2 separate regions of the Homo sapiens genome follow, and region 1 is linked to region 2. Evidence: fine-mapped expression QTL. A gene starts in region 2. The other region holds a variant in brackets. All regions are shown on one strand. Distances are between the middles of the regions.

Region 1 (12,400 bases), 90 kb before region 2:
GATTTTGTTTTAATAGGTTTATGGGGGTATAATTAGCATATAATAAACTTCACATATTTAAAGAATACATTGCAATAAGTTTTGACATGCACGTACACCCCTGAAAGGATCGCAGCGTCTATGAGAATGGACGCATCCATCGCCCCCAACGTTTTTCATGTATGTTTGAACATCTGTCCTGTCCCTTCCTGTGTCCTGCCCCTCAGGTGATAAAGTTCAGCTTTCTGACACTGTAGACTAGTTTGCACTATTTTAATTTTATGTAAATGGATTATATAGTATGTACTCTTTTTTCGGGGATGAGAGTCTGGCTTTTTTCGCTCAGCACAATTACTTGCGATTCATCCATGTGGTGAGAAACCATAGTTCATTTCTTCCTCTTGGCAAATAGCGCTCCATTGTGCTGTTTACCTGTTCACTTGATGGACATTTGCATTGCTTAAAGCTTCCAGCTATTGCAAAAAAAGCTGCTACAAATATTCATGTACCAGTCGTCATATGGACTCGTGCTTTCATTTCTCTTGGCTACCTAGGAATGGAACGATTGTAAGGTACGTGCAAGTTTAACATTCTACCAACCTTTCTGGAGTGGCTGCATCATGTTACATCTCCCCAGTAATCTCTGAGTGTTCTGCTTCCTCCACAAGGTTCCAACACTCGGTTGATAACGTTTGACATTCTAACAGGTATATGGTGCTGTGTCCTTGTGGTTTTAATTTGCATTTACCTAAGGACTAATGATATTGAACACCTTTTCATGTGTTTATTTGCCATCTGTATATGTACTCTGTTGAAGTGTCTGTTCAACATTTTTGCTCATGCTTTATTGGGTTGTTTGAGTTTTGAGCATTCTCATGAGCTCCCCTGGGGTGGTCCTTTCCAACTGTGGCCCTGGTACTGAGGGGTCCTCCCCACAGCAGGAACACAGGAAGAAAGTGTTCAATCAAGTCCTGCAGGATGGCCTCAGCCAGGTCCAGATGTGGGCTTGGGGGCCAGGCCACACTAAGCACCTTCCTCCCTCTGGGCTGTCTCCCCACAAGACTCACAGAGCTGAGCCAGGTGTCCCATTGGGCACACAGGGGACCCCACCCTGACAGCGGCCCCCATTGTACTTTGGGCCATTGCTGATCTTTGCTCTTGGTGGGCTGGCGGCTCAGATGTTGCCCAAGAGGCTGTGGGGCAGGAGCAAAGTCTGGGAGACTGGGAGGCTCTGGCTCTTAGGAAGTATCAAAGGCACCCAGGCCTGTGGGAAGAGGTGTCCTGGAGAGGAAAATGGCAGAGGGAGGTGTGTCTGCCCCAGCCGTGTGGGGCTGGAGAGTTGGGGAGAGAATGCATTTGCTATGACAATTCAGTGTTAAGAGTCCACGTGCCAGCAGAGCAGCCCCCAGCCTTGGCGCTACTGACCTTGGGGCTGGGTTGTTCTCTGCGTGGGGCCATCCTGTGCATCACAGGTGCTGAGCAGCATCCCTGGCCTCCACCCACCAGGCACCAGTGGCAGCCCCCTTCCAGTTGTGACAATAAAAAAATGTCTCCAGACGTCACCAAATGTTTCCTGGGGGCAAAATCAGCACAGTTGGAACTTCTGGGTTAGCAGCAGATTGGATAGGATGATGGTGAGTGACTGCCTAAACCATCACCAGCCTGTGTGAGCTGACAAAGGAGGGCTCCTTACTTATGAGTTTATTTGTGTAAAGTCTTAAAAAATTAAAGATATTAGCTTAGTAATTATACACATAATGAATTAACTTTACTGAAAAGAATAGTATGTAGAAAAAATGAGAATTTTAGCAAAATTATTAGACGGTGATGAATGTGGTGTCTCCCTCCTGAGATCTGGTTGTTGAGTGCGGCGTCTCCCTCCTGAGATCTAGTCGTTGAGTGTGGCGTCTCCCTCCTGAGGTCTGGTCAGTTGAGTGTGGCATCTCCCTCCTGAGATCTGGTCAGTTGAAAGTGTGGCGTCTCCGTCCTGAGATCTGGTCATTGAGTGTGGCGTCTCCCTCCTGAGATCTGGTCAGTTGAGTGTGGCGTCTCCCTCCTGAGGTCTGGTCAGTTGAGTGTGGCGTCTCCCTCCTGAGGTCTGGTCAGTTGAGTGTGGCGTCTCCCTCCTGAGATCTGGTCAGTTGAGTGTGGCGTCTCCCTCCTGAGATCTGGTCAGTTGAGTGTGGCGTCTCCCTCCTGAGGTCTGGTCAGTTGAGTGTGGCGTCTCCCTCCTGAGATCTGGTCGTTGAGTGTGGCGTCTCCCTTCTGAGATCTGGTCAGTTGAAAGTGTGGCGTCTCCCTCCTGAGATCTGGTCAGTGGAAAGTGTGGCGTCTCCCTCCTGAGATCTGGTCAGTTGAAAGTGTGGCGTCTCCCTCCTGAGATCTGGTCAGTGGAAAGTGTGGCGTCTCCCTCCTGAGATCTGGTCGTTGAGTGTGGCGTCTCCCTCCTGAGATCTGGTCGTTGAGTGTGGCGTCTCCCTCCTGAGATCTGGTCATTGAGTATGGTGTCTCCCTCCTGAGATCTGGTCAGTGGAAAGTGTGGCGTCTCCCTCCTGGGATGTAAGTTGTTGAGTGTGGCGTCTCCGTCCTGAGATGTGTTCAGTTGAGTGTGGCATCTCCCTCCTGAGATTTGGTCATTGAGTGTGGTGTCTCCCCCTCTTTCTTGTTCCTCTTTTGCCATGTGAGGCACCTGCTCCCCCTTCACCTTCCACCATGACTGGAAACTTCCTGAGGCCTCCCCAGAAGCAGATACCACTCTCCTTCCTGTACAGCCTGCAGAACCATGAGCCAATTAAACCTTTTTTTCTTAAAAATTACAGAGTCTCAGGTATTTTTTTATAGCAGTGTGAGAACAGATGAATACAGAGACCCCTCCCAAGGGAACATCCTGTGTCTAATTGTTGGTGGGTGTCTCACCGACCCCAGAGTTGAAGAAGCTCCTTTGCTTAGCTTGTTTCCCATAGGCTGAGCACAGGGTCCCCCAGGGAGTGCCTGGTTGACGGTGGTCAGGTGGCTCAGACCTGCTGAGTCTTGCTGGGGATGGCCCTGCTGCCTGAGGATCCCAAAACGTTGGAAGATGAGGGACTCTCATTGGGCTTTGAGGATCCCCGTAGCCCTAGGACAATTCCAGGTATGTAGCAGGTGCTCCCACATCTTACCACTTAGCTTGGATTTTGAGGTTTAAATGCTACAAATATGGTTACTTATTGTGGGCCATGAAATAACCTTAAATCAGTGTTGCAGTGACCTTTGATACTGAATGTTTTTATAAATCAACATTATTTTTAAAGAAAAGTGGTGTGTTTGATTAGGAAAATCCGGCATAGCTGAAGGTTATAACACATTTGAATAAATTAGAGGAAGTGTTCAAATCTTGGGTTGCTGAAATGCTATTACATATACTGTCATGGAAAATAGATAATCATTGGCCAGAGATTAAAAACATGTGCCGATTGATTGAGTTGAAGGATGTTAGAAGGTTTGGAAAATTAAAGGGGCCAGTTGTCTTCCTGTGATGAAATTAAGAAGCACTTTAAATCAGCCATGGCCACGTCTCTGGTTCTTTTGCAATGACTGTTTTCTCCATGTCTTATTTTCTGCACTTGGTCTCTAAGATAAATTGCTAGGTTTCTCCTGAGCACAATTATCATCTCAGTTCTACCTGTGGGCACTTGCTGTGACCACCTACACTGCTTTACCAATCAGTTGTGGGCCTTTGGCCCAAACAAGGAAGTGAGTCAACCCCCATGGGCTCACAATGCCTCATCTACGTGGCCAGGCCTGCTGAGTGCAGAGTGGGGGTCTGGGCTTCAGCCTGCCAGAAGACTCTTAGTCTCCTCAGACCCTTTGGATGCTCCATCCTTGAAGTCAGGACAGTGTCTCCCTGGACACTGCAGGCCACCTCAGCGTCTGGATGGGCACATAAGAATTGTGATGAAAATATTTACCTTCCCGAGTTCACATCAACAGCCAGACATGCTGACAGTGTGCATCCCGGTGTGGTGTGATGAGAATGTCACGTGCCTCTGTGTCTTTCCGCCCCAAAACCCGTAACTTTCATCATGAGTAAAAAAATAATCAGGCGAATCCCAGTCAAGGGAATACCTGGAAGATACAAAATACCTGGCCAATATTCTCCAAAACTACCAAGTTCATCAAAAGCAAGGAAAGTCTGAGAAAATGCTGCAGTCAAGAGAAGCCTAAGGAAACTCCTAACTGTGATGTGGACAGAAGGACGTTAGGGGAACACGGAGGAACTGGGAATCAGCCATGGATTGCAGTTGACAGTATAGGATCGATACTGGCACATTAATGTAACACATGCTAATGGGAGATGTCAGTAACGGGAAACTGGGTGGGGGCAAATTTAAAACTATTCTAAAAGATTAAGTCTATTTAAATAAAATTCCATCCTCCTGCAGGGAGGGTTGCACATGGCCCTTGTGTGCCCAGGGCAGAGGTGCTGGGGAGAAGCCACCAGCTCTGGAATTGATCTCCCCAGGTCCATCACCCAGAAGCCCTGCAGGTGCCCTGGCCTGTCTCTGCTCGAGCCTGGGGGCGGTTCCCATGGGGACCCCTTTCTACCTCCGAGTGGGGTAATTGCTCCCTGAGAGCCGCTCCTGGGGACACGTGGGCCTCTGTAGCAACCTCAGCATCCACCCCGAGGGGACAGACTTCACTCAAAGGTCAGCATCAAACACAGGAGACACTGACTGGGAAGAGACGGGCGTCAGCCTTGAGGCACCATCATGTCCATGGACATGTGGGCTCCCATTTAGACAGGAGCTGGCCTAGCCACACTCCTCACTCAGTGAGTGGCTGCAACCCTCCATGCCTGCCTTCCACATGGATGACCCACCTAATTTTCCTTTCAATGTTTTTGAAAAGTCAGATCTGATTCTACCCTGCCCTGACCTACATTAATGTGGAAAAAATGTTGCTGAAATTGCTTTGCTGTTGTGTTGAGGGTTTCCGTTTGAAACTCTAAGTGCCTGGGAACCTCTGTGGGCCTGCACTGTGCCCTATCTGTGCCCTCGATCAGGTGAGCAAGAAGCCGGAGCCCCGTGGTTTGGCCTTTAAGGCAGATCAGGATCTGTAAGAGGGGCCTGGAAGCTTCCTGTGAATCTGGTGCAAGGCTCCACCTGCCCTTGGTTTCACAGGCAAATGGGGCTCCTGTGATGGAGGATGGATTTCGGGCCTCAGACTGGGCAGCCAGGAGGTCTTTGGGACTGCCTGAGCTGAGGGCTGCCTGGGCTGAGGACTGCCTGGGCTGAGGGACTGCCTGGGCTGGGGGGACTGCCTGGGCTGAGGGCTGCCTGGGCTGAGGACTGCCTGGGCTGGGGGGACTGCCTGGGCTGAGGGCTGCCTGGGCTGGGGGGACTGCCTGGGCTGAGGACTGCCTGGGCTGAGGGACTGCCTGGGCTGGGGGGACTGCCTGGGCTGAGGACTGCCTGGGCTGAGGACTGCCTGGGCTGAGGACTGCAGCTGAAGGCTGCCTGGGTTGAAGACTACCTGGGCTGGGTGCCTCCTGGGCTGGGAAGGAAGTGGGTTTGGCCTTGTTTCCTCTGATGTTGACTAAGCCGCCTCTCCTTGCCCTGGGCTGGGCCTGTCCTGCCCGAGGAGGCTAGGTGGTCAGAGATGGGTGGTGGGAGAGGTATGTGAGGTTGGTTGAGTGGAGGCACTGGATTAGGGGCTGCACCGAGGCTGGGTCTGTGCCTTTCTTT[G/A]ATGTATCCAGTCTCGGACACAGCCTGACACCCCCTGATGGAACAAACCTCCCACCCAGACCAGGAACAGGAATGGCCAGTCCATGCCCGCTTCTGCATGGAGTCTGCCCTCCTGAGGGAGCGGCCTGGGGTGGCTGAGGTAGGGCCGCAGTCATGGTTTCTACTAAGGAGCTGTGGCCAGGTCAACCTACAGCTGAAATCTGACAGCTGAGGTCACCTGGCCAAAAGAGCTGGAGTCTGGCCTGGTGGTAGTTGGAGCCACTCACTGCCCTGATGTCCCCACATGCCTCCCTTTGGAGAGTGCCCCTCACAGCCTCTGCAGGTGAAACCTGTGCTGTCCTGACGCTAACTCTCCATAAAGCCCATGCCTGCTGGGTGGTTTTCCTTCTCCGCGACCCAGAATCTTGTGCCCAGGTCACTGATGTGGTCTCCACCTGCCTCGGGGGCCAAACACACTTGCACACCACGAGCTTCTGTGTGCTGGAATAATGGAGGAAATGTTTAAAATCAAAGCAATGAGAGGCTCTTGCTGCATTTTTGTTATTTACTGTGATGCCAGCCCCGCTGCAGGCCGGCAGGGAGCACTGTCCTCGGGGGTGAGTGACGCTGGGCTTGTTGACTCCCTCGCAGAGTGGAGGGTTAATGCTCTGATTCTCCCTGGGCGCAGGGACCCATGTTAACATCTTAATTATGTGCTTTCTGCAGCAAAGTTGCCAACAGCAAACTTTCCCAGAGAGTCTCAGCAGGACAGCGAACAAGGGGACAGGTCCCAGAGAGTCTCAGCAGGACAGCGAGCAAGCGGACAGGTCGCAGAGCGACTCAGCAGGACAGCGAGCAAGGGGACAGGTCCCAGAGAGTCTCAGCAGGACAGCGAGCAAGCGGACAGGTCCCAGAGAGTCTCAGCAGGACAGCGAGCAAGCGGACAGGTCCCAGAGAGTCTCAGCAGGACAGCGAGCAAGCGGACAGGTCCCAGAGAATCTCAGCAGGACAGCGAGCAAGCGGACAGGTCCCAGAGAGTCTCAGCAGGACAGCGAGCAAGCCGACAGGTCCCAGAGAGTCTCAGCAGGACAGCGAGCAAGCGGACAGGTCCCAGAGTCTCAGCAAGACAGCGAGCAAGGGGACAGGTCCCAGAGAGTCTCAGCAGGACAGCGAGCAAGCGGACAGGTCCCAGAGAGTCTCAGCAGGACAGCGAGCAAGGGGACAGGTCCCAGAGAGTCTCAGCAGGACAGCGAGCAAGCGGACAGGTTCCAGAGAGTCTCAGCAGGACAGCGAGCAAGCCGACAGGTCCCAGAGAGTCTCAGCAGGACAGCGAGCAAGCAGACAGGTCCCAGAGTCTCAGCAAGACAGCGAGCAAGGGGACAGGTCCCAGAGAGTCTCAGCAGGACAGCGAGCAAGCGGACAGGTCCCAGAGAGTGTCAGCAGGACAGCGAGCAAGCGGACAGGTCCCAGAGAGTCTCAGCAGGACAGCGAGCAAGGGGACAGGTCCCAGAGAGTCTCAGCAGGACAGCGAGCAAGCGGACAGGTCCCAGAGAGTGTCAGCAGGACAGCGAGCAAGCGGACAGGTCCCAGAGTCTCAGCAAGACAGCGAGCAAGGGGACAGGTCCCAGAGAGTCTCAGCAGGACAGCGAGCAAGCGGACAGGTCCCAGAGAGTCTCAGCAGGACAGCGAGCAAGGGGACAGGTCCCAGAGAGTCTCAGCAGGACAGCGAGCAAGGGGACAGGTCCCAGAGAGTCTCAGCAGGACAGCGAGCAAGCCGACAGGTCCCAGAGAGTCTCAGCAGGACAGCGAGCAAGCGGACAGGTCCCAGAGAGTCTCAGCAGGACAGCGAGCAAGCCGACAGGTCCCAGAGAGTCTCAGCAGGACAGCGAGCAAGCGGACAGGTCCCAGAGTCTCAGCAAGACAGCGAGCAAGGGGACAGGTCCCAGAGAGTCTCAGCAGGACAGCGAGCAAGCGGACAGGTCCCAGAGAGTGTCAGCAGGACAGCGAGCAAGCGGACAGGTCCCAGAGAGTCTCAGCAGGACAGCGAGCAAGGGGACAGGTCCCAGAGAGTCTCAGCAGGACAGCGAGCAAGCGGACAGGTCCCAGAGAGTGTCAGCAGGACAGCGAGCAAGCGGACAGGTCCCAGAGAGTCTCAGCAGGACAGCGAGCAAGCGGACAGGTCCCAGAGAGTCTCAGCAGGACAGCGAGCAAGCGGACAGGTCCCAGAGCGTCTCAGCAGGACAGCGAGCAAGGGGACAGGTCCCAGAGAGTGTCAGCAGGACAGCGAGCAAGGGGACAGGTCCCAGAGAGTCTCAGCAGGACAGCGAGCAAGGGGACAGGTCCCAGAGAGTCTCAGCAGGACAGCGAGCAAGGGGACAGGTCCCAGAGAGTCTCAGCAGGACAGCGAGCAAGCGGACAGGTCCCAGAGCGTCTCAGCAGGACAGCGAGCAAGGGGACAGGTCCCAGAGAGTGTCAGCAGGACAGCGAGCAAGGGGACAGGTCCCAGAGAGTCTCAGCAGGACAGCGAGCAAGGGGACAGGTCCCAGAGAGTCTCAGCAGGACAGCGAGCAAGGGGACAGGTCCCAGAGAGTCTCAGCAGGACAGCGAGCAAGCCGACAGGTCCCAGAGCGTCTCAGCAGGACAGCGAGCAAGGGGACAGGTCCCAGAGAGTCTCAGCAGGACAGCGAGCAAGCGGACAGGTCCCAGAGAGTCTCAGCAGGACAGCGAGCAAGCGGACAGGTCCCAGAGAGTCTCAGCAGGACAGCGAGCAAGCGGACAGGTCCCAGAGAGTCTCAGCAGGACAGCGAGCAAGCGGACAGGTCCCAGAGAGTCTCAGCAGGACAGCGAGCAAGCGGACAGGTCCCAGAGAGTCTCAGCAGGACAGCGAGCAAGCGGACAGGTCCCAGAGAGTCTCAGCAGGACAGCGAGCAAGGGGACAGGTCCCAGAGAGTCTCAGCAGGACAGCGAGCAAGGGGACAGGTCCCAGAGAGTCTCAGCAGGACAGCGAGCAAGGGGACAGGTCCCAGAGAGTCTCAGCAGGACAGCGAGCAAGCGGACAGGTCCCAGAGAGTCTCAGCAGGACAGCGAGCAAGCCGACAGGTCCCAGAGAGTCTCAGCAGGACAGCAAGCAAGCGGACAGGTCCCAGAGTCTCAGCAAGACAGCGAGCAAGGGGACAGGTCCCAGAGAGTCTCAGCAGGACAGCGAGCAAGCGGACAGGTCCCAGAGAGTCTCAGCAGGACAGCGAGCAAGCGGACAGGTCCCAGAGAGTCTCAGCAGGACAGCGAGCAAGCCGACAGGTCCCAGAGAGTCTCAGCAGGACAGCGAGCAAGCGGACAGGTCCCAGAGTCTCAGCAAGACAGCGAGCAAGGGGACAGGTCCCAGAGAGTGTCAGCAGGACAGCGAGCAAGCGGACAGGTCCCAGAGAGTCTCAGCAGGACAGCGAGCAAGGGGACAGGTCCCAGAGAGTCTCAGCAGGACAGCGAGCAAGCGGACAGGTCCCAGAGAGTGTCAGCAGGACAGCGAGCAAGCGGACAGGTCCCAGAGTCTCAGCAAGACAGCGAGCAAGGGGACAGGTCCCAGAGAGTCTCAGCAGGACAGCGAGCAAGCGGACAGGTCCCAGAGAGTCTCAGCAGGACAGCGAGCAAGGGGACAGGTCCCAGAGAGTCTCAGCAGGACAGCGAGCAAGGGGACAGGTCCCAGAGAGTCTCAGCAGGACAGCGAGCAAGCCGACAGGTCCCAGAGAGTCTCAGCAGGACAGCGAGCAAGCGGACAGGTCCCAGAGTCTCAGCAAGACAGCGAGCAAGGGGACAGGTCCCAGAGAGTGTCAGCAGGACAGCGAGCAAGCGGACAGGTCCCAGAGAGTCTCAGCAGGACAGCGAGCAAGGGGACAGGTCCCAGAGAGTCTCAGCAGGACAGCGAGCAAGCGGACAGGTCCCAGAGAGTGTCAGCAGGACAGCGAGCAAGCGGACAGGTCCCAGAGAGTGTCAGCAGGACAGCGAGCAAGGGGACAGGTCCCAGAGAGTCTCAGCAGGACAGCGAGCAAGCGGACAGGTCCCAGAGAGTGTCAGCAGGACAGCGAGCAAGCGGACAGGTCCCAGAGAGTCTCAGCAGGACAGCGAGCAAGCGGACAGGTCCCAGAGAGTCTCAGCAGGACAGCAAGCAAGCGGACAGGTCCCAGAGCGTCTCAGCAGGACAGCGAGCAAGGGGACAGGTCCCAGAGAGTGTCAGCAGGACAGCGAGCAAGGGGACAGGTCCCAGAGAGTCTCAGCAGGACAGCGAGCAAGGGGACAGGTCCCAGAGAGTCTCAGCAGGACAGCGAGCAAGGGGACAGGTCCCAGAGAGTCTCAGCAGGACAGCGAGCAAGCGGACAGGTCCCAGAGCGTCTCAGCAGGACAGCGAGCAAGGGGACAGGTCCCAGAGAGTGTCAGCAGGACAGCGAGCAAGGGGACAGGTCCCAGAGAGTCTCAGCAGGACAGCGAGCAAGGGGACAGGTCCCAGAGAGTCTCAGCAGGACAGCGAGCAAGGGGACAGGTCCCAGAGAGTCTCAGCAGGACAGCGAGCAAGGGGACAGGTCCCAGAGAGTCTCAGCAGAACAGCGAGCAAGCGGACAGGTCCCAGAGAGTCTCAGCAGGACAGCGAGCAAGCGGACAGGTCCCAGAGAGTCTCAGCAGGACAGCGAGCAAGCGGACAGGTCCCAGAGAGTCTCAGCAGGACAGCGAGCAAGGGGACAGGTCCCAGAGAGTCTCAGCAGGACAGCGAGCAAGGGGACAGGTCCCAGAGAGTCTCAGCAGGACAGCGAGCAAGCCGACAGGTCCCAGAGAGTCTCAGCAGGACAGCGAGCAAGCGGACAGGTCCCAGAGAGTCTCAGCAGGATGGCGAGCAAGAGGACAGGTCCCAGAGAGTCTCAGCAGGACAGCGAGCAAGCGGACAGGTCCCAGAGAGTCTCAGCAGGACGGCGAGCAAGAGGACAGGTCGCCTGGCCACCCTGTTCCTGGGCTGGTGGCACTAGCTGTGCCCAGTGACCCCTGAGGGCCTCGCGCTCCTAATGGCAGCAGACAACCACACAGCGTAGAGGCGTTTGTCCTGCAGGGTTTCTCTGAAGACCTTCCACTCCAGGGCTGCTGCTTTGCTTTTTTCCTCCTTTACCTGATGGCACTTGTAGGAAACATCCTCATGGTCATGGCCATCAGTCTGAATCCAGGCCTCCACACGCCAGTGTACTTCTTTCTCACCAACCTGGCCCTTTTAGACATCGTCTGCACATCCATGGACAACAGCAGAGTGGTGGCTGTGCTGTACACAGTGGTCAGCCCCACCCTGAACCCCTCACCTACTCCCTGCGGAACAAGGACTTATCAGTAGCACTGAGGAGAGTGTTTTCTTGCATCAGGTAAAAGGAAGGGAAGTTTCTAGTGTGAAATGTTCCAGGTGTTAACAAACTAATTTCAACATATGACTTTGAGAATCTCATGCAAGCAGCAAGGAACAAGAAAGTAATTAATGCCACATATTTATAAATAATGTGCTCCCGCACGGGGCTGCCATCATTCAATGTGGAACTCCCAACATCCCAAGGCTGTATGGGTAGGTGCAGTCAGGGCTACAAGGCAGCAGGGAGCTAAGGGAGGGCCAGCGGCTAGTTGAGCAGGAGCCCAAAAGGGCCACTTAACACCCTCCGACACCCCATGCACCTGCTTGACTCCCTTTCACTGGCAACTGGGTCCCAGGAGCAATGTGGGAGCATTCACCTTGGGGGTGCCGCTGGCCGTGTCTTCGTTTAGTCAGGGGTTCTTGCCCGGGGATGGGTCGAGAGTCACATATGCCCACTGTGCACACTGCCTGGTCTATGTTGACGGGGTGGGGGCATTTCTTGATATCCTGCTTTGGAGAAAATCACCCAAACCCCGACTCTCCAACCCAACTCCTCTTGGTGTGAGGTCAAGGAAAACATGAGAAATGCTCTCCTCCCTGTGTGAGGTTTCGTGGTCCTGGCACCATAAAGGGTGAGAGATGGGGTTATCCAGCCTTTCTTTTTAATGACCTGCAGGAAATACATGGGGCTTTACTGATTTACTTCCTTTCAGAGAAGGGCATTCTCATTCTTTAATTTATGCACCAATCACCTACATTCTGTCATTAACTTATTATCTTTGTTTAATTGATTATCCTTGTGTCCATCACCAATCCATCTATTTTATGCATTTCAAAGCCAGTTGCAAACATCATTTCACTTCTTAAATACTTCTGCGTGCATATCATTAAACATTTGTTTATAGTTATTTTTCCTTTTAAGGTAATATTTTCAAACAACAAAATGCATAAATAAGGGTGTACGTTTGCTGAGTAATGTAATTATCAAATCAGGTGCCCATGTGTGATGATCAAATCGGGTACCCGTGTGTGATGATCAGATCCTTCTGTCTAATTGTATGTTTGTACCCCTTAACAACCTCTGTTCATCCCCTTCCCCCACACTCTTCCCAGCATCTGGTAACTATCATTTTACCCTCTACCTCCATGAGATCAACTTTTTAAGCTCCCACATGTGAGTGAGAACATGCAATATTTGTCTTTCTATGGCCAGCTTATTTCACTTGTCATAATGACCTCCAGTTCCATCCATGTTGCTGCACATGATAAGATTTCATTCTTTTTTATGGCTGAATAGTATTCCATTGTGTATATATACCACATTTTCCTTATCCCTTCATTCATTGAT
Region 2 (12,400 bases):
GGCATTAACATTGTGAAAGGAAAATAAATCTTTTTATAAATAAATCTTTGAAAATAAATCAATTCAAAGTCATCCCTCTGCTCACTGAGATAAATGCATATCTGATTTTGTAAAATAAATATCTGAAAATAATTCAGTCATCCTTCTTCTTACTCAGATAAATGCATATCTGATTGCCTCCTTTGGAAAGGCTAATCGGAAACTCAAAAGAATACAACCATTTGTCTTTTATCTACTTATGACCTTGAAGCAAACCCCCCTGCTTCAAGTTGTCTCATCATTGCTTTGAGTTGTCCCACCTTTCCAGATCGAACCAATGTTCATCTTACATATGTTGATTTGTGTCTCATGTCTCCCTAAAAAGCATAAAACCAACCTGTGCTCTGACCACCCTGCCACCCTGGGCACAGGTCATCAGGACCTCCTGAGGCCGTGTCACAGGCATGCATCCCTAACTTTGGTAAAATAAACTTCCTAAATTGACTGAGACCTGTCTCAGATTTTTGGGTTTCACATTTTGGCAACCACAAAGGGATTCTGAGTAGAGGTGCCCCTGACCTTTGACAAATATCCTATCAGTGCTTGCTAGCAGCTTGAGCTATCTTTATGGTTCAAACTAATATGACAAGTTGCTGAGTTCTGGAAGTCCCCCATCCAGGGAATCCCTCATTTCCCAAAATTCGCTCCAGATCCAAAGTTTATTTTTCTAAACAACTCTACTCTTTTTTTGGAGTTTTTCTTGCTTCCAACAAGGAAGGCAAGTTTTCCTGCTTCCATGAAAGTTCCTTTCTGGAGTTTGAACTCGCTCCCAACAGGGAAGACAAGTTTGAGGGTTTTTTTCCTGCTTCTAAGATGATAGAGAGCAGTCTTCAGCCTAAGACCCATCCCTAGGTAAGTAACTGAATTGGGGTTTGTCTTGGCTAAAGGTAAAATTAACAACCAGCTGGTCTTAATTTTTCCTTATCATTAGAGTGTCCAGTAACCATACAAGTTGTGTGATCATTTGTTTGTTTTGCTTAACTGGTATTTTTTTTTGTTGTTGTTTCTTTCTGTTTTTGTTGTTTTGGTCCTTTTCCTATTGGGTTTGGCCAATTCTGACTTGATCAAATCCAAAGGAAAGTTCCAAATTATGTGGAACAAGGCCTCTGAAGTGGCTAAATTCCCACCAGAAAAGGGGTGGTGGGGGAAGAAAAAACAGCCAGCAAAAGGAAAAAAGGGGGGGAAGATTTTTGATTTTGACTACTTAAGGGGATTTATTTACATAACAAGGCCACCTTTTTGCTAGCCAGGCCAAACTGAAAGAGAAAGGATTGTCACCCCAACTGCAGTTCCATAGCTAAGGTTCTGTCTTCTTTTTTCCATGACAGCCTGGGTTTGGTTCCTAAATCAAGACCTTTCTGGTTTGATACTTGGTACTTCTGAAATAGCAGATATTTGTCCTAGCTGAAATATGTTGATGAGATCTTAAAAATTTTTTAAAAAGAAACTCAAATGGTTAAAAGTCATCTTAATTAAAAGCTAACATCCAATGTGTGTGTGTGTGTGTGTGTGTGTGTGTGTGTGTGTGTGTGTGTGTGTGTGTGTATTTAAAAGGGCTTCATGATTTTTCTTTTTTCTCTCTCCTAGGACCTTGTGTTTTTTGGGCAAAAGTTTTTTTTCTTTTCAGTTGACTGAATGCTATTTTCTTCATATAGTTCTGCTGTCTCTCCTTTCCCTTGAACGCTCTGCTGCATGAGGGACCTAAAATAGTTTATAATAGCCTGAGGTTCCTTAAAGAAAATGGAGAAGGCACCAGACTCCCTTTTGTGGAGAAAATTGTTTTTCCTTGTGTATCCCCAAGAGTGTAAACACACAAGTTCATGTCAGCTCCTAAACTGTTTGCTTTTGTATTGTGTTACCTGATTTTTTTGTTTATTAATTATTGCAACAGAAGCTACTCCTGCATTTTTAAGGAAGAGTATATTTTAGACACTTAGAAATATTTTTTTAATGTTTTTTAAGTACACTGTAAAAGCATCCATGTGGTCGAGCCTCATAATAATTCTCCCTTTTTGCAGACCCAGGATTCAGTGTGGCCTCTTCCCAGAGCTCAGAGATCCAGTTAAAAGATAGGTAGTCACTATCTAAATAAAATTGGTCTCCTGTGATCCAACCACCTCCCACCAGGCCCCAACTCCAACATTGGGGATTACAATTCAACATATTTGGGTGAGGACACAGATCCAAACCATATCACAGGCCAAGGCCAAGGCCGAGGCACGGTTGAGAAGGCTCAGAGGCACCTGACCAAAGTTTGTAACAGTTTTGATTGACAATACCAAATTACCTTACACTGATGTATACAAGATGCCCAGTTTTTCATTTTTACCAATCACCTATGTTTCCAAACGTGTTTATCTTTGTCAACCAGATATGCAAAATTAAGGTGTCTCCTTACAAACTTTCTGATAGTAAATATCAAAAGTTTGGGTGCATCTTATTTTCTAAGACTATGTCCTAAGTAATTCTGGATATGGCTAATGGGCAAGGTGTTCATCACTGTATTGTTTATAATAGTGAAAAACTCGAAGAAGCCTAAATATGCCTTAGGGGATTTGTTAAATAAATTATAGCACATACACAGGATGAAATCATTTACAGCCATTAAAAATCATGCATACATGCATAAGGCCAGGCTCAGTGGTTCACATCCATAATCCCAGCACTTTTGGGAGACTGAGGCAGGAGGACTGCTCAAGCATAGGAGTTCAAGAGCAGCCTGAGCAATGCAGCAAGACCCTCTCTCTACAAATAAAAAATTTAAAAAAATTATCTGGGCATGGTGACATGTACCTGTGATTCCAGCTACTCAAGAGGCTGAGGTGGGAGAATCTCTTGAGGCCAGGAGGTCAAGGCTGCAGTGAGCAGTGATTGTACCACTGCACTCCAGCCTGGGCAACAAAGCACAATCTCGTCTCAAAAAAAAAAAAAAATCAAGCATAAAATTTTGTGAAATGCTTATTTTTGAGTTTATGGAGTCCCCTCATTTTGGTCCCACCTGAAATCTTACACAAATTACTGCTCATAAATTTTTGCATTAAGTTTTAAATTATTCAAGTAATTGGCATGTGTGAAAAAGTATGAAGAAAAAATTGAAACACCAACATTCCCTTTCCCCAGTCATTCCCCTTTCTAGTAATAACTGCAGCCAGTTAGGTGAAGACTAATAGACTTTTTACTAAAATGTATCTAGTGTCACTGACCCTAGATAACATCCCTGCTTCCTTTTTAAAACAGATAGACTAAAACTGGAATCTTGTCCTTTAAATTTCTTCTGTAGCTGGTCACTATAGAATGTTTGTGCCCCCATCCATAGTTCGTATGTTGAAATCCTAACCCCCTAGTGTGACTGCATTAGGAGGTGGGGCCTTTGGGAGGTGATTAGGTCATGAGAGTAGGGCCCTCAGCAATGGGATTAGTGCCCTTATAAGACCAGAGAGGTCTGCAGCAACTTCCCCAACATGAGGACACAATGAGAAGACAGAAGTCTATAGCCAGGAAGCAGGCCCCCACCAGACGCTGAATTGCACCTTGATCTTGAACTTCTAGCCTCGAAAACTGTGAGAAATAAGGCATTTCTGTTGTAGCAGTTTGAACTAAGGCACAAGCGACATTGGTTAAAACTTACCTAAATATACTAGGTTATGTGAGGAACATGGAGCCATGATACTGAAAGGCTAGCACACCGGCGGGCCAGCAGGTGCTTAATGAAAGGGATACGTTTGCGTCTGTCCTGTTTACTTGCTTTGTCCTTCGCTGGGGCTTTCACTGTGCCACATCTCACTGTAGGGATGCTTTCTGTGCTAAGCTTGTTTCAGTATTCAAACCTTCATTTTGTAAGAACATGACAGAGCACCTGCCATGGCATTCACGCAGGTAGGGCTGGAGGCAGCCACCGACGTTTGTTAATTGCAGAGTTTTAACTCAAGGGGGACAGATGATCTCAGGACAGAATGACAAGCTGAGTGACAGCAGGAGGGACGTCACCGTACAATTCTCTCCACTTTTCTGTAAGTTTGAAAATCCTCACAGAACACCCAGAGGCACACAGTGTCCTGAAGTGGAAACGGCCAGGACAGTGTCCTTTCTCTTTGTTGGGCTGCAATTTCTGGACTTCTGTACAACTCTGACCAGCTGCCTGTCCCCTCCCTTCCCAGGGTGAGGTAGGAGCCACTATGGCAGGTCGGGGTCAGGGAGAAACAAACGGGGGATCTGCGTGGAGTCGGCCTCCCCCGGCTCCCCGGGGCGTCGGGATGCTGGGTGGGGGGCCCCACTGTCAAGAACCAGTTTAGTGCGACTGGGAAATCTGGACACTTGCTGGTTCTAGGGAGAGGAAGGTGGAATTAGGAATTCCCTTGGGATTGGGAGCGTCAGGAAAATATCCTTTTTGTTTTAAGAGGTGTGTATGTAAAGTCTGTGGGACAACGGGAAGGGATGTCTTTTGACTAATTACCTAAACCAAAATTGGAGCAACTATGATAACAGTTCAATGCTTTAAGACAAAGTGGGGGGTGTGCGGGCAAGCACTCCCTCATCTTGGCCGAAATTTTTCTGAAGAAACCCGCTAAGTCTCAATCAGCAGCATCAGGACTGACAGGAAGAAGCAGCCGCCACCCGCGCCCCAACCCTGCCCCGCCTCGGCGAGGTCAGACCCTCACGCACAGTTCCCTGCCTCCCACCACTACCTCCGGCCTTCTCAGCCCTGTCCACGGCTCCTGCGGTGGGCTCGGCCTTCGATGTCAGGGACCTCCCCGCCATTTCCTCTCAGCTCGCCAGCGAGGGTGCCTCGGGAGGGAGCCTCCAGTGGTGATTGGAGCAACCGCCGCTGGGGGCAGGACTCCAGGCAGCGCGCCTGCGCAATGCACTCCTGCGCGCGCCTGGAGATGTGAGGTAATTCTCCGGCAGGCCTGCGTGGCACTAGTGCGCATGCGTAAAGGCGCGAGGGCTACAAACGCGGCGGGAAGCCCGCCAGGGCCACGTGCGGCCGTCCAGGCTTGCGATTGGCCCGCTGCCGGGTGCCCCCGCGCATGTGCGCTGGCTTCCGAGGGGACCGGCCCTGGTTCTGGAGGCCCTCCCCACCAACGAGCAGTACGCATGTGTAGCGCCGAAGCTTCCTGTGAAGTGTGCGTGTCTGACGGATGACGACTCCACAAGGCGCTGTGGCCCTGGCAGCCTCATGAGGTTGCGGCTCTGCGGGACCACACCGCCGCGGGAGTGCACGGGCCCCAGCGAGTGAAATCTGCGGCAGCCCCCGCTGGGCCCGCTGTTCCTGCGCGCGCAGAGGAGCGTAGCCTGCCCCTAGGCCGCGTTCCCGTGAGCTCCATGCCCACAGTGGCCGAGGCCGGCCACAAGCCCACGGTCCCTTCTGCACGGTCCCTGCCGCGCTGGGGCCACCGTGGAGGCCCGGAGGGCCCTGGGAGGAGGGAGGAGGAGCAGAGGCTTTCGGGAGAACCCAGCCCTTCACCGGCCAGGGGAGGCCGCGATGCATCGCGACTGGTTGTGAAGAGCCAGGGGAAGAACTTTACCGTGCAGGTGAGTGGGAGACATCAGAACACCTGCCTGTCCTAAATACGAAGCCTCGAATCCTAACCTATAAAAGGTTACCTTAGGGTTTAGGGTTAGGGCTACAGATTAGAGCTAGGGATTAAGGTTAGAGTTGGGGTTGGGGTTAGGGTTTAGGGGTTAGAAGTTAGTTTTGGGGTTAGGAGTGGGGTTAGAATTAGGGTTTGGGGTTAGTGTTAGGGGTAGGGGAAGGATTGGGGTAGGGTTAGGGTTGGGCTAGGGTCGGGGTAGGGGTAGGGTTTTACGGTTAGGGTCAGGGTTTTAGTGTTGGGGTTAGGGTATTGGGGTTAGGGTTTGGGGGCTAGGGGATTAGGGTCAGGGGTGGGGGTTAGGGTTTGGGATTTGGCTAAGGTTTGTAAGGGTTAGGGTTTTAGGGTAGGGGATAGGGGTTAGGGTTACGTGTTGGGGTTGGGATTAGGGTTAGGGGTTACAGTTTAGGGTAAGGGGTTAGAGTTAAGGGTTAGGGTTAGCATTAGGAGTTACAGTTGGGTTAAGGGTTAGGGGTTAGGCTTAGTGTTGTTAGGGTTAGGGTTAGGGTTAGCATTAGGAGTTACAGTTGGGTTAAGGGTTGCAGGTTAGGCTTAGTGTTGTTAGGGTTAGCTTCAGGGTTCGGTGTCAGGGTTTGGGGTGGGGTAGTGGTAGGTTTAGGGGTAGCGTTGTGTGTTAGGATTTGTGGTTACGGTTCGGGCTAGGGTTTTAGGGGTAGGCATAGGTTCGAGTTTGGGTTTGGGTGTTAGGTTTATGGCTAGCATTAGGGTAGGGGTTAGGTGTAGGAGTAGGGGTTGAGGTTATGAGTTGAGGTTAGGGTTAGGGGTCAGGGGTCCGGTCAAGGGTTGGTGTTGGATTTAGGGATTAGGGCTAGAATTAGGGGTTAGGGTTAGGGGTTTGTGTCGGGGTTGGGTTGGAGGCTTGGGTTCAGGGTCAAGTTTAGGGTTGGGGCTAGGGCTTAGGGTTATGGGTTAGTGTTAGCAGTTAGGGTTAAGGTTTAGGCTTAGGGTTTAGTGCTTGAGGTGGGGGTTAGGTGTTAGGGGTTAGGGTTAAGGGTTAGTGTTTTGCGTTAGTGGTTAGGGTTAAGGGTTATGGTTAAGGGTCAGCGTTAGGGTCAGGGGTTAGGGGTAGGGGTTGTGCTTAGTTTTAGGGTTAGGGTTCCTGGACGGATGGTTTTCCTGCTTGGGAATGTTCCTGGGCTGTGAGATCCACTCTTCTGGGCAGGTGGTTAGCACCTAACGTTTTCCCCTTACTTCCCCCCAAATTCTTAAGTCCTTTGGTCCATTTCATTACTTCTTTTGGGGAGGGCCTGATTCCTCAGGGCCTCAGTGGCAGAACCAGCCTGAGGTCACCTCCCTGTCCATGGGTTACCACGGCCCCTGGGCAGGCATGGGGAGCTGGGGTGGCTTGGGTTCCTGGCCTTGGCACCTCCCTTTGGGCGGCTCTGGAGTGTGGCTGGGCTGTTGGTACAGGAGCCACAGGCCACTGCCTTTTTGGCTGAGGGGACCCTAACATCCTGGAGCAGGTGGGGCAGGGCCCATGGTCTCCTCTAGGTGGGAGGTGGGAGGCTGAGGCGGCGTGGGCAGGCAGGTGGATGGCGAGGCAGCATGGGCAGGACGGTGGATGGCGGGTCCACAGGGGCAGCCAGCAGCTCCTGCACCCACTGGGGCTCCAAGACTGTGGGCAAGGGAGGAAGGGGGAGCCCAGGCCGGAGGATCCTGGGGGACGGTGCGGCCCGGGGGCCAGATGTGGTCACCGAGCCCAGCCAGGCCTAGGGCCGCAGCAGCCCCAGGGCACTGAGGGCGCCACCCAGCCCGACACAGAGGCACAGGCCGCCCGTGGGTCCAGCGCCCGAAGTCCACGTACAGTAGCTGTAGATGCCGAGCCGGTCCTGTTGCCTCCGGGAACCCAGTCCTCCTCGTCCTCCAGGCCGCGTTCCCCGGGTCCCGCGGCCCTTCTCCAGCCTGAGCCCGCCGCCCCGGCCGCAGCCACGCGCAGGGAGGAGCCCGGGGCACCATAGCACAGCGCCGGCCTCACACACACCCTCGAGGCCCCTCTCGAGCCCCCGCGGAGCCCTCCGCGGCCGCACGCAGAGGAAGGCTGCCTCCTGTAGCAGAGCCCAGCCATTCGCGGGTGCCCAGTTCATCTTCATGGGGCTAAACCTGCGGGAAGAGAGGGAAAGGGCCCTTAGTTTCCATGGAGATCGGGTGCCCAGAGGCGGAGGGCTCAAGGCTGGAGAGCAGAGGGACCCCCATCTTTTGTGGGATCAGGGTGCCCCCAGCATCTTGGAGGCCCACTGAGGCCTGGGGGGGCGCGGTTTAACCTCTAGCATCAGGGACTTAGGCCTGGGGGAGGCGCTGGGAAGTGGCAGGTGGGGCAGGAGGGGCAGGAGGGTTCTGCACCTGAAGGTTGTGCACCTGGATTGGGGGTGTAGAAGCGGGGCAGGAGCGTTCAGGCCTCTGGGGGCGTCCAGGCCCGGGCGGGGGAGCAAGCCTGGGGGAGGGAGCTCTGCACGCGTTGCTGGGATGTGGGGGGCGGGGGGAGGCGGCATGGGGGGAGGGGCGTTGTGTTTGGAGGACGCGGTAGCCGGGACCAAGAGCTGGCTCAGATCAGGGTCTGGAACGGGGACGGGCCGTGCCTGGGCCTGGTCCCCACCTTTGGGGCCAAAGCCTGGGTGCGGGCCTTGCGGATGCTGCGGAGGACAAGCGGCTGCTGACACCGTGCGGACTCCGCCCCAGCAGACCCGTGCCCCAGGGACAGTCCCTCCCGCGCGCGCCCAGCGCTCAATGCCGTCCCCGGCCGCCTAGTTCAGCAGCTGGCTGGGGGCGGGACGGGGTCGAGTTGCGGGGCCGCGTCCAGACACGGCTGTGCGGGCGACAGCTGCATCCCCTCCCCGCGCCGCCCCTCGCTCCCGGCCCCGTACCCGCCCCAGCCTCCCGGCCTTACCCGCCACGGGCCTCGGTTGGAACCGCGCGCTGGAGTATCCGTCCCTGAGGCCGCGGCCGAGCGGGAAGGAGCGGGCGGGCGGCGGCGCGGACCCTCAGCCGGAGCGCGGAGCCGCGGCGCCTGGGTTTTGCGCGAGGCCTCCGCCCTGGGATTGGGGCGGGCAGTCGCGGAGGCGCATCCCTGGTGAGCCGGTGGGAGGGGAAAAGGATGTCGCGTCCCCCATCCTTGCGGCCTCCCGTCCTCCGTCACCAGCCCCCTCCGTCTCCTGCATCACAAGGCCCCGTCCCCGCGGTCCCCCGCGACCCCCGCACCCGGCTCCGCTCCACCCGCCGTGCTTCCTGCCCCTCCACACCCTCGTCCCCACCCGGGCCCATCCCCCTGTGAGCCCTGGTGCCCTGGGATGAGGGCCGAGGTCCTGAGCGGAGAGGGTGCTTGTACCAGCCCCATGGTGGCTCGAGCCCACCCCGCGGCCCCTCCCGTGGCAGGTGCGGTTTCTCCACCGGTTGTCAGCTGCGGGGCCGGGCGGAGACCTCCTCAACCTCCGGCCTTGTTTCAGGGAGGATGGGGTCGACCCTTGCGATCCCCAGAGGCCCCCCATGGCTCCTTCTGGGCTGGCTGTCTTCCTCCTGTGGGTTCTGATGCCACCTGGGCCGACGGCGTCTTCTCAGCCCAGGGCGGCCGCGCCTCCGGTGAGTTTCAGCTGAGGGCGCGCGGCCAGCTCCGAGCCTGGCTCCGGGTGCAGCACCGGCCTGGGACCTCTGCTGTCCCGTGTAGGGGTGCCCTGCAAATATGTGATGAATAAGTGAAGAAATACGTTTTATCTTCTAACTTGCCGGATGTTAGAAGGAAACCAAGCTTATGCTTCTCATTTATAGCTACCGTTAAGGATTGGACAGAAGCTTAGCTTTTTGGGTGAGACGGACAACAGTGTTTTTAGAACCTTTGGCAAGGAAGAGCTGGAAAGAACATGTATTTGAAAGTGACTGACAGGTCTTCTGGCCCTAGGGGGCCACCTGAGCAGGTGCACCCAGCTTCCCTCCAAGACAGAAAATAAATTAACAAGGAGAGCAGGAAGGGCCCCGGCAGACTCCAGACGGGAGGGGGTGCTGCCCATCAGGCAGAAGGAGCTTGGAAGGGAGGGGCCGTGGCCATGGGACGTGGAGGTGGGAGCGGGGGTCATCATAGGTCTGCACACTCGGGTTGAGTCCCCCTTCCCCATCACACACAGGACAGCCAGCAGTGAGCTGCTTACCCCAAGGAGTCAAGGGGGTTCTTGGGCAACCCCTGGTGCTGGAGCCGGCAGTGGACAGCACCGCAGCCAGACCTTGCTTATTTTTGGCTCATGAGGAACATCTGTGACCGTTCCCTCCCCTGGCCCTGGGAGGGGATGTGTGACCTCCACTCAAGACAGCCATGCGGCTCCTCCGGCTGCGGGCGGGGAGGGCATGTTTCCCAGCACAGGCCCAGGACTGCCAGCTGAGAGGCTGGGAGGGGCCCCTCACCCCTAGACTTTGCATGTGAAGCCAAGCGTGGAGCCTCACAGGGAATCTGAGATGGGAGCCAGTGAGATGGGGGCAGGACCCAGAGGGGAGAAGAGGTCCTGGGGATGCTGTGGATCTGGATCCAGCGTGCGGGAGCTGAGGTTCCGGAGTGAAACACTGCCTTTCATGGAAGCACGTCTTCCTGTCACCCATCGGCTTCATTTTAAAGGATGAAAATGTATCAGACATTCAAGGAGAGCTGCATCACATAAAAGAAAGACCAGGCAAAGAAACGGAAAATAAATGGATTGAGAAATGTGAATGACTCCAATCATTCCAATCATTGGAATGAATGGATTGGATAAAACTCCAATCCATAGACTCAGATTAGGGAGATATATTTATATAATAAGAACAGGAAACTGTGAAGATGAAATAAGACAAAAAAGACACTTTTGAGATTAAAAAATTACTGCAAAAAAAAAAAAAAAAAACAACAGAAGGATGGAATTGTATATTTAAGGAAATGTTTCTGGCAAAAAGGCAGCAAATATGAAAGAAAAGGGGATAGACCCAGGGGATCCATTTTGGGCTCTAACATCTAACAGTTGTTCCAAGGCCGAGAACACAGAATGGGAAAAGGAAGGGGGAGGCGGTGCTCCAGCTGATTTTATGATTCCAGAAGCCTTCTATCTTAAGATGTATAGGATGTATCTTAGGGTGTATAAGAGAAGCGCAAGAGAAACATTTAGGCTGTTTTATGTTTGAGTAGAGACATGAAAGTTTTAGATAAAGCAGCAGCACAATGAGTCCAGCGGCACATCAGAAAGCAAATCACCATGATCAGGTCAGGTTCAGGGTGGTTTTATGTCATAACATATGTCAGTGTGCTTTACCTATTAGTGGACCAAAGGCAAAAAATACGGTTTTCTACAGAGAAAGACAAAGCATTTGATTTCAATCAACATTCGTTTGTGGTGAAACATGTTGAGAAAACTCATCATAGAAGTGAAATGTTTTCTTTGATAAAGGCTAATCTCAGAAGACATACGTAGTGGAGAGCTTTTAAATGTATTTTTAAAAATACGAACCAATGAGAAGATTGCCTACTTTCACCGCTTCTGTTTAACACAGCATTGGCAGAGCTGCCACCAAGAAGAACACAGCACGTTGAAGGCACGGTGGCTCCTGAAGCTGCAGCCCTGAGACCTGATTGTACCATGGAAGGTGGGGTGGCTCCTGCAGCTGTAGCCCTGAGACCTGATTCCACCACAAGTGCTGCAGCTGGCAGAGGCCACAGGACATAGGCATAGCTGGTGAAACCTGCAACTGAGGGTGTCGGGGGCTCCTGGGAGAGCCTCCGTCCCCGCTAAGGAGAGGGGCTGCGTAGAACCTGTGTGCTATTGTCCTTTCCCCCTTTTTCCTGCTGGGAGTGGGACTTGGTGCCGAGGGTGGCTCCTGACATCGGAAGACCCCAGGATGCTGGGTCAGCGGCTAGGCGGGTGGAGGGTGGGGTTGTCCCCGGCACACGGCGGTGCTGCTCTGCCACTCTGCACTGCTGGGTGTCTCACATCTCATCCCTGTATTAAGCAGGTACTCCCTAGACTTGCAGCCAGATGTATACCTTAGATTTAAAAGATGGTAGAATTTCTCTACCAGAACAAAAAATAGCTTTAAAAAATATAAGATAAAAAGCCATTCATAGTCTGGCACGATGGCTCATGCCTGTAATCCTAGCACTTTGGGAGGCCGAGTCGGGCAGATCACCTGAGGCCAGGAGTTCGAGACCAGACTGGTCAAAATGGTGAAACCCCGTCTCTACTAAAATTACAAAAATTAGCTAGTCATGGTGGTACATGCCTGTAATCCCAGCTACACGGGAGGCTGAGGCACGAGAATCACTTGAACCCAGGAGGTGGAGGTTGCAGTGAGCTGAGATTGAGATTGCGCCACTGCACTCCAGCCTGGGTGACAGAGCAAGACTCCTTCTCCAAAAAAAAAAAAAAAAAAAAAAGCCATTCACCACAGTCCGCAATGTAAAAGACCTCTGTGGAGAACATCAAAAAGTTATTAAAGAATATAAAAGAAAATCTGCATAAATGGAGGATGCACAGGATATTGTGAAGGTGACCGTTTGCCACAAATTGATCCATAAATTTAATGAAATTACAATAAAAATCTTTGCATAATTTTTAAAAGACTGTTATGAACTGAACAGTGTCTCCCTCAAATTCATGCATTGAATTCCCAACCCCTAATACTGCAGGGGTGGGTGCATTTGGAAATAGGACCTTAAAGAGGTGACTAAGGTTAAATGAGGTGAGGTGAGCTTGATGTCGTTAACAAGAGGAACTCAGGACCCAGACACCCACTGTGGGATGGCT

Alleles and levels. Alleles are on the strand shown, and positions count from the first base shown. SD is a standard deviation of normalised expression in the study named.
With allele G in place of A in region 1, the expression in thyroid of the gene that starts at base 4,851 in region 2 is higher (moderate effect, 0.46 SD a copy in GTEx).

What was found.
Region 1: its variant is fine-mapped to the expression of SYCE1 in thyroid (GTEx, PIP 0.93).

Annotation. Positions count from the first base shown.
Region 1 is chr10:133,470,495-133,482,894 of GRCh38, forward strand. It overlaps the pseudogene OR7M1P. Among named protein-coding and RNA genes, the nearest start is that of SCART1, 23 kb to the left of the region's middle. The variant G/A (reference allele first, on the strand shown) is at 5,703.
Region 2 is chr10:133,560,733-133,573,132 of GRCh38, forward strand. It overlaps SYCE1 (synaptonemal complex central element protein 1), which reads right to left and starts at 4,851. Exons shown (of 13, transcript NM_001143764.3): 1 at 4,725-4,851. The coding sequence starts at 4,797. It also overlaps the pseudogene SPRNP1.